Linked DNA regions of Homo sapiens: region 1 is linked to region 2. Evidence: fine-mapped QTL for protein levels in blood plasma. Region 2 holds a variant in brackets. A gene starts in the other region. All regions are shown on their forward strands.

Region 1 (5,479 bases), not on the chromosome of region 2:
GGGCCCAGCCTAACCTCTCTGTGACTCGGTTTCCTCTCCCGCGCTAGGGAGCTCCCTCCTGGGGCTGCCGTGGGGTCAGCAGCAACGTGCAGGTGAAAACACTGTGTGGGCTCCAGGCCGATCAGATGTTATTTATTATTCTGAGCTGTGTTTTGGTGGGAGACTTGGAAGGGCTGGAGGGAGAGTCAGAGTGCTTTGGGCTCCTCTCTTTCCCGATGCTGCTTTGAGAGTTCTCAGAGTAGAACGTCCAGGAATGGGGCCCGGGAAGGAGAAGTCCGTGGCTTGAGACAGGACCAGGTTGGGTGTGGGGGCTTTCTCCATCAGCCCCAGGAGTGGGGGTAGGATGGCCAAGCTTCCCCTGCCCTGCCGTGTGCCCCTCTCCTGCCCTCCTCAGCACCCCCCAACCTCTGCTCGGTGCCTCCCCTCCTCCGACCCCCTCTCATCTCTCCCACACCCTCTAATGGTCTCTTGGGACTGCCCAGAAATCGGCCTCCTCTCCTTGGATACTTGTCCTGGCCTAATGGGGCTGTGACAGTTTTTCTAAGTCCTGCTTATAAATGTGTCACTGTCCATGTCCCTTTGTGCTATCAAAGGAGGCTGCGCAAACCGCGTTTGTCCAAGGGCTGTGTGAAGGCCCCCGCGCGGAGCAGCTGGAACACGGGCTGATGAAATTACGGGGAATTCAAAGCAGCCGGCGTCGCCCGCTGTCTGGCTTCATTACGGGGACTGGCCTCGAAGGGAAGTTTATTCCAATAATTTAGAGGATTAGGATCTGACACCCTTCATTAGCGATTTGACATAAGCAGAAAAGACAGATCCTGCAGAATGGCCGCACAACGGGAAGGGACCAGCTCAGGCGGGGAGAAGGCAGCACCCGCCCGGCTGGGAAGGGGAAGGGTCTGGGTGTGGAAGCGAGGGTCCCGTGGCCGTTTTACAGTCCTGTGAGATGGCGAGCTGTGTTCTTGAAGGGGAAAGTGGACGTGGGGAAGGAGCGGCCTGGGCTCAGGCCTCAGTTTCCTTAGCTGTAAAGCGAGATTACCTTCAGGATCCCTTCCGTATCTGATGCGTGTGGGGGCCACTCCACCTACTGTCCCCGGGACACAGCAGCTCCTCAAGGCCCTTGTGGTTTGGCCTTGGAAAGGTACCTCTCTTTCGGGGCTCTATGTGCCTCCGCCCCCTACCCCCAGGATCGAGTGACCAACTCGAAAACACTCAGACTGCAGGCTGCTCTGTGGCATTTTAGATAGAAGCCATTTGCTGCCAAATGGGGGAGGAATCGCCCCCAGCCCCTGGCAGCTTCTGGCTCTCTTCCCGGCCCCTCCACAAATATAGCCCCTGATGTTTCAAAAATTTCTTGTCCAGTCTGTGAAAACCAGAGTTTGGGCTGTGCCTTGACAGCAGTTCTGGCAGATGGATGGGGGAGGGGTGATTTTAAAAGGCCCCTGCCCACACCCAGCAAGCTGGTGTCCCTGTTTCCTGTACCGTGGTGGGGTAGCTGTGCGACATGGGCAGGTTGCTTAGCCTCTCTGTGCGTCCTTTCCTCCGATCTGAAATGGAGGTGCAGTTTGTTGTGAGGATTAAATGAGATGATGCGTTCAGAGAAGCCACACGTGTGAAGAGCCCAGTGCATCTGGCAGCTGGTACCACCAGGACTGCTCACTCTGTGCGACCTTGGACAAGTCGCTCGCCCTCTTCGACCACAGACCTTCTCCTTTGGGAAGTGGGGGAGGCCAGACAAGGCTGGCAGTCAGAAGGAGCTCACTGAAGAGCAGCCACTGTGGTCGTCAGCGAGGGCAGCTGGACTCCGGCACAATCCTGAGACACTGTGACCGCGGAGGTTTTCTCGGTGTGTCGATGGAAGAGGGAGGAATGTGATCCGTCCCAGCCGCCGGCGGGGCCAGAGCATATCTGGTATGTGTCTCTGGAATGATTTGGGGAAAATTAACTGAAGTTGGAACTTAAGACGCAAACTGCCCTGGACACAGAGATACAGAGCTGTCCGTGCGCACACCCCCCACAAAGGGCCGGGGCCGGGGTGGGAGTCGGCTTACAGGGCACAGCGCGGCGCAGGCCCGCCCTGGAATGGCCGTGAACTTGTTGTTTTTCCACGTCATTTGCTCTCAAATGTACTATCAAGCCGGGCGATGCTAACCCGGTGGCTGCAGGTCCCTCCTCGTAACAAGCGATTGTGTGTTCTTTAGAGGTGGCCAAAGGGGAGGAGGGGGCCCGGCCCCAAGGAGGTGGGGGAAAGGGAAACAAGCCCTCCTTCAGAGTGAGCTTGCGTGTCCTGGAGCCAGCTCCCCGCAAAGCACATGCCATTTCTGGCCCTTGAAGGGGTTAAAGGCCTCCTGGAGTCAAAAACAAGCAGGTGTCCCACCGTGCCAGATACGCTGCCTAAACTGCTTCCAGCTTCTTTTTTTTTTTTTCCCCCCTTCTGCAATAAGTCTGTGATCAGCCACGGGACAGAGGCGCCAGCAGCCTGCCTGTGACAGGCATCAGGTTAGCTGGCTCCCACTCGGGTGGCGCGCCCAGGATATAAATCCGGGCGCGGGCCCCTGCTGTGGCTCCTCTCCCTGCACACTCAGGAGAGGGAGCTTCCTTCTAAAGACCTTTCTTTTATCTGAAGCCGCACAGCCCGGCAGGCTGTGCTGACTTGGTGGAGGCAGCAGCGGCAGAGCAGCCTGAGCAGCAGCCTGAGCAGGAAACCTGCTGGGGTGGGGAGGGCAGGTGTCTGCAGCCCCTGAGAAGAAGGCCCTGGTGGGCCCCAGACCCTGGCATCGTTTCAGGGGAGGTCTCTAGCCGCCCCAGCCTGCACCATGTGGGCCCCAAGGTGTCGCCGGTTCTGGTCTCGCTGGGAGCAGGTGGCAGCGCTGCTGCTGCTGCTGCTACTGCTCGGGGTGCCCCCGCGAAGCCTGGCGCTGCCGCCCATCCGCTATTCCCACGCCGGCATCTGCCCCAACGACATGAATCCCAACCTCTGGGTGGACGCACAGAGCACCTGCAGGCGGGAGTGTGAGACGGACCAGGTGAGTGGGGTCCAGAGACCAGAGATGGACCACGTGAGCCTGTGAGTGACGGGGGTGGGAGCCGTCGGGGAGGGACTGTGTGGGAGTGTGAGGAGGACAACGTGAGTGGGGTCCAGAAGCCACAGTGTGAGGCGGACCAGGTGAGTGGTGTCCGGAAGCAGGAGTGTGAGATGGACCAGGTGAGTGGGATCCAGAAGCCACAGTGTGAGGCAGACCAGGTGAATGGGGTCCAGAAGCCGCAATGTGAGATGGACCAGGTGAGTGGTATCTAGAAGTGGGAGTGTGAGGTTGACCAGGTGAGTGGGGTCCAGAAGCCGGTGTGTGAGGCGGACCAGGTGAGTGGGGTCCAGAAGCCACAGTGTGAGATGGACCAGGTGAGTGGGATCCAGAAGCTGGAGTGTGAGGCGGACCAGGTGAGTGGGATCTAGAAGTGGGAGTATGAGGTGGACCAGGTGAGTGGGGTCCAGAAGCCACAGTGTGAGATGGACCAGGTGAGTGGGATCCAGAAGCTGGAGTGTGAGGCGGACCAGGTGAGTGGGATCTAGAAGTGGGAGTATGAGGTGGACCAGGTGAGTGGGGTCCAGAAGCCACAGTGTGAGATGGACCAGGTGAGTGGGATCCAGAAGCTGGAGTGTGAGGCGGACCAGGTGAGTGGGGTCCAGAAGCCAGAGATGGACCATATGAGCCTGTGAGTGATGGGGGTGGGAGCCACAGGGTGGGGACCATGCAGGAGTGCCCTGCAGGTCCTAGGAAGGTGAAGGAACACAGGCCCCGTTCACCTGGAGAGAAACAGGGCACCATCCTGTCTATTAACACCGAAGCCTGGAAGGAGAGGTGGGAGCGATGTCCCAGTTCATCAGGGACTGGAGCCCGAGGATTCCTCCTTCATGCGTGCTGAGGGCTACTGTGGCCAGCACCGTGCCGGGCACGTCGTGTATGTTGGCATGACATGTCAGCATGGTGGGCATCAGCAGCCCATTCACAGGTGAGAGAGTGGACACAGAGCCAGGCACGGAGGGCACAGTTGTCATGGCCAGTGAGGGAACGATGAGCTTGGAACTCATGTCTAACAAGAAAGCTTTGATTGCATTGGACTCCAGGCCACCTCCTCAGGAGTTTGGACCCTGAGCCTGAGAGAAGACCAGGCTGACGGCAGGCCAAGCAGGAGCAGCTCTGAATGGATCTCTGGTGTCCCTGGGAGGAAGGAGACCACGTTTCAGCCTCCCAGCGTCCTTGGTCCTGCCTTCTGCTCTGTATCAGAGGGCACTGCTGCAGGGCAGGGCCAGTTCTCTTCTAGCTCCCGAGTCATTCCCGAGGGCCATTCCTGCCCACCCCCTCTGGGGCAACAGGCTGTGGGACCTACACCTGCTCCAGGCAGAGCTATTTCCTGCCCAGTCTGGCCAGCTCTGAGGGCAGCACGGAGTCTCCCAAGGCTCCAGATCCAGGCTGGGGCATCCCCAGGGAACACGAGAGACACTGGTTCCCCCATAGATGCCTGGTTACCCACAGGAGAGCAGAGGGCTGACCTGGAGAGGGTGGCCTCAACCTCACAGTGCCCAGGGACAATTCTTAGGCCTCCCAGGACAGATGCTCCCCTTGGGCAATGGTGGTGCCAAGTGAAAGGAAGATAAGAAGTCAGGAGGAGTGGTGGCTGCTCCCATCTGGCCAAGGTCATGCCATTAGTTGGCTACATTTGCAGGCACAGGCTGGCCTGATTAACCAGGTAGGGCTTGGGGATGGTGAGACTCTGGTGGATTTTGTGTGTCTTGGAGAGAAGGCACCTGTGGAAGGCTGGGTATCCAGACAGCCCTTGGGGACATTCTGGCCCCCTTACACAGAAGTGTTCTAAGGACCCCCTGTAGGTTCCCTGTGGCCAGAAGTACCTTCCCTCTGGTGCCCAAGGACCCAGGCTTTCATGGACCTCCAGGTCCTGAATGTCTTAGGGAATGGGATGAGGCTCAGGCCAAGGAGAAGGTTCTCCTGCTCCTACTCCCTCTCCTGCTCTCCATTCCCTGCGGGGTCTCTCTCCCTTAGACCCAGCTCTGAGAGCTGCCCATCCCTGTCCCAAAGCCTCCCCTGGTGTGGCCTAGAAGACTATGCCAAACAAGGGCTGCAAAACAAAGTCCCCATTCTGAGCCGAAACGGGTAGAACAGTAAACAAGTCAAGCAGGCAGGCTCCATGCAGCCAGGGTGGGGGGATATTTTCCCCCTCTTAGCTGATGTGGAATGTCAAAGAGGCTGAAATAAAAGTTGGAATGACAAGAGGCCAGCCCTAGTGGGGAGTAATTCACAGAGTTACTACCTGGTGGAGGATTAGGAGCGTTGCCTGCCTGCCAAGTGGGTACGATGTGTTATTGTCGAAAACACCACGTGAAATCCTTGTTTGTGTCAGCTCCAGGAGCATGTTGCTAATTTCGAGGAATTAAACTAATGCTTTACGTGGCTCCACAGAA
Region 2 (2,195 bases):
CGAGTCCCTGTGCATGGCAGTTTTGGGGATCTGAATCCGCCTTCTGTCCCACACCCAACTCCTGCTCTGCCTCTGCAGCCACCTGCAGGCTCTCAGCGCACTCCTCAAAATCTATTTCTGCTGTGTTTACCCAACACCACCTGCAGGAAACTCCCTTGAAATTCCCAGGCCTTTCCCAGAGTTCCTCAGTTCCTTTTCTTAAAATTCCTGCTGTCCCCAAAGATTTCCTTTGAAATTTTCCTTAATTCCAGTGTCTTTCCATAGATTACTTCCTTTTTTTATTATTGCTGCTGCACAAATTAAACTTTCCATAGATTTCTGAATCTTTCCCGATATTATAATATCTTATGATCCCAGTCTTTTAACAGATTCCTTTGTATTGCCCAGATTCTCAGCACTTCCCCAGAATTCCATCCAATTAAAATAAAATTCCATTGTCATTTCTATAATTTCTAGTCTTCCCCCCAAAGTTTTCAACTAGCTCCCTAATTCCCAGGATTCTCCTAGAATTCTATTAGGCTTCTCTTTCATTTTAATGAAATTTCATTTTCTTGCCTCCAAATCCCAAGAGTTCAGTTTAATACTAATGAATTTCCGATAGTCTGTGGAATTACTAGCTTTTCTCCAAATTTTCTTTTCTTTTCTTTTCTTTTTTTTTGAGACGGAGTCTCCCTCTGTCACCCAGGCTGGAGTGCAGTGGCACGATCTCGGCTCACTGCAAGCTCCGCCTCCCGGGTTCACGCCATTCTCCTGCCTCAGCCTCCCGAGTAGCTGGGACTACAGGCACCTGCCACCACGCCTGGCTAATTTTTTGTATTTTTAGTAGAGACGGAGTTTCACCGTGTTAGCCAGGATGGTCTCGATCTCCTCACCTCGTGATCCGCCCGCCTCAGCCTCCCAAAGTGCTGGGATTACAGGCGTGAGCCACTGTGCCCAGCCTTTTTTTTTTTTTTTTTTTTTTTTTTTGAGACGGAGTTTCGGTCTCGTTGCCCAGACTGGAGTGCAGTGGCACAACCTCGGCTCACCACAACCTGGGCCTCCCGGATTCAAGCAATTCTCCAGCCTCAGCCTCTCCAGTAGCTGGGATTACAGGCCCCCGCCACCATGCCCAGCTAATTTTTTGTATTTTTAGTAGAGACAGGGTTTCTCCATGTTGGTCAGGCTGGTCTCTAACTCCCGACTTCAGGTGATCCGTCTACCTCGGCCTCCTAAAGTGCTTGGATTACAGGCGTGAGCCACTGTGCCCAGCCAAATTTTACAGCATTGTTTTTTTTTTTTTTCTGGGATTCAAGTCTTTCCCTAAAATTCCTGACATTTCACCTGAATTCTGAGGGTTTTCACTAGAATTTTCTTTAATTTTAATGAAATTACCTTTTCTCTAGAATGCCTAATCTTGATTCAGAATTCCAATTTTTATCCTAAAATTCTCACTGTTTCCCCAGAATTTTCCTAGGATTCCATTTAATTCTCATAGCATTTGTGTCTTTCCTGATTCCCTGCCAAACCTCAGAATCTTTAGTACTTTTCAAGAAATTTAATCTTTTTCCAAGATTGCCCAAGATTCTGAAGGAGAGAAGGGGCCTGGTCCTTCCCCCACATTCCTGGCCACCCCCATAGCCCTGGCGTGGCACCAACCTTGTACCACATGAGGGAGGGCTCTGGGTTGCCCCCGATAGCCAAACACACCAGCCTCACCCGGGTCCCAGCCCGGAGCTTCTGGCCCTCTGGGGGACCCTCAATCCACAGTTTCTGGGCGGGATCTGGCGGGGAGAGGAAGGAAGAATGACTTTTTCTCTGTGCTGGGTCCTGAGGCTTGGGGGCATTGCTGGGCCAGGGCAGGGGCTCACATTTTACGTTCAGGATGAGCGACTTCTTGAAGGTCTCCTTGGTGAAGGCTTCACTGAAGGCCTCACATGTGAGGGTCAGACCGTTGTCCTCC[C/T]GCCGCGCCAGGAATGTCAGGTTGGACATGGAGATGTGACCGCCATGCAGTCCCTGGCAGGGAGTGAGCTTCAGACGTGGGGACTGCAGCACCCCTATCCATCGTGCTAGAGGCCTGAGTCCATCCCAGTCCCCAGCAGGGACACAGGAGACATCTCTACCTCCCCCTCTGTTGGACCCATGGTCCTCAAGGAGAAAGCCCCCCAGGCTGCTGGACCCACCCCTTCCCTATCCACGAGTCATGCCCTCAGCCCCCT

Which allele goes with the higher level. Positions count from the first base shown, and alleles are read on the strand shown. Strength reflects both the effect of a copy and how common the allele is.
As copies of C replace T in region 2, the plasma level of the protein whose gene starts at base 2,465 in region 1 goes down (weak association).

What was found. A credible set is the group of variants that fine-mapping cannot tell apart. PIP is the chance, under the fine-mapping model, that this variant and not a neighbour inherited with it causes the effect. Protein levels are from antibody-based Olink assays in UK Biobank. Linkage for the fine-mapping came from a reference panel and not from the study's own genotypes, which makes the PIPs less certain.
Region 1: it holds the start of WFIKKN2, and the variant in region 2 is the best candidate, but not a certain one, in a credible set for the plasma level of the WFIKKN2 protein (UK Biobank, PIP 0.79).

What each region holds. Positions count from the first base shown.
Region 1 is chr17:50,833,122-50,838,600 of GRCh38, forward strand. It overlaps WFIKKN2 (WAP, follistatin/kazal, immunoglobulin, kunitz and netrin domain containing 2), which reads left to right and starts at 2,465. Exons shown (of 2, transcript NM_175575.6): 1 at 2,465-3,026. The coding sequence starts at 2,817. RefSeq lists an enhancer at 1-177.
Region 2 is chr19:35,846,406-35,848,600 of GRCh38, forward strand. It overlaps NPHS1 (NPHS1 adhesion molecule, nephrin), which reads right to left. Exons shown (of 29, transcript NM_004646.4): 10 at 1,848-1,992; 11 at 1,636-1,760. Among named protein-coding and RNA genes, the nearest start is that of NPHS1, 5.0 kb to the right of the region's middle. RefSeq lists a silencer at 1,705-1,880. The variant C/T (reference allele first, on the strand shown) is at 1,940.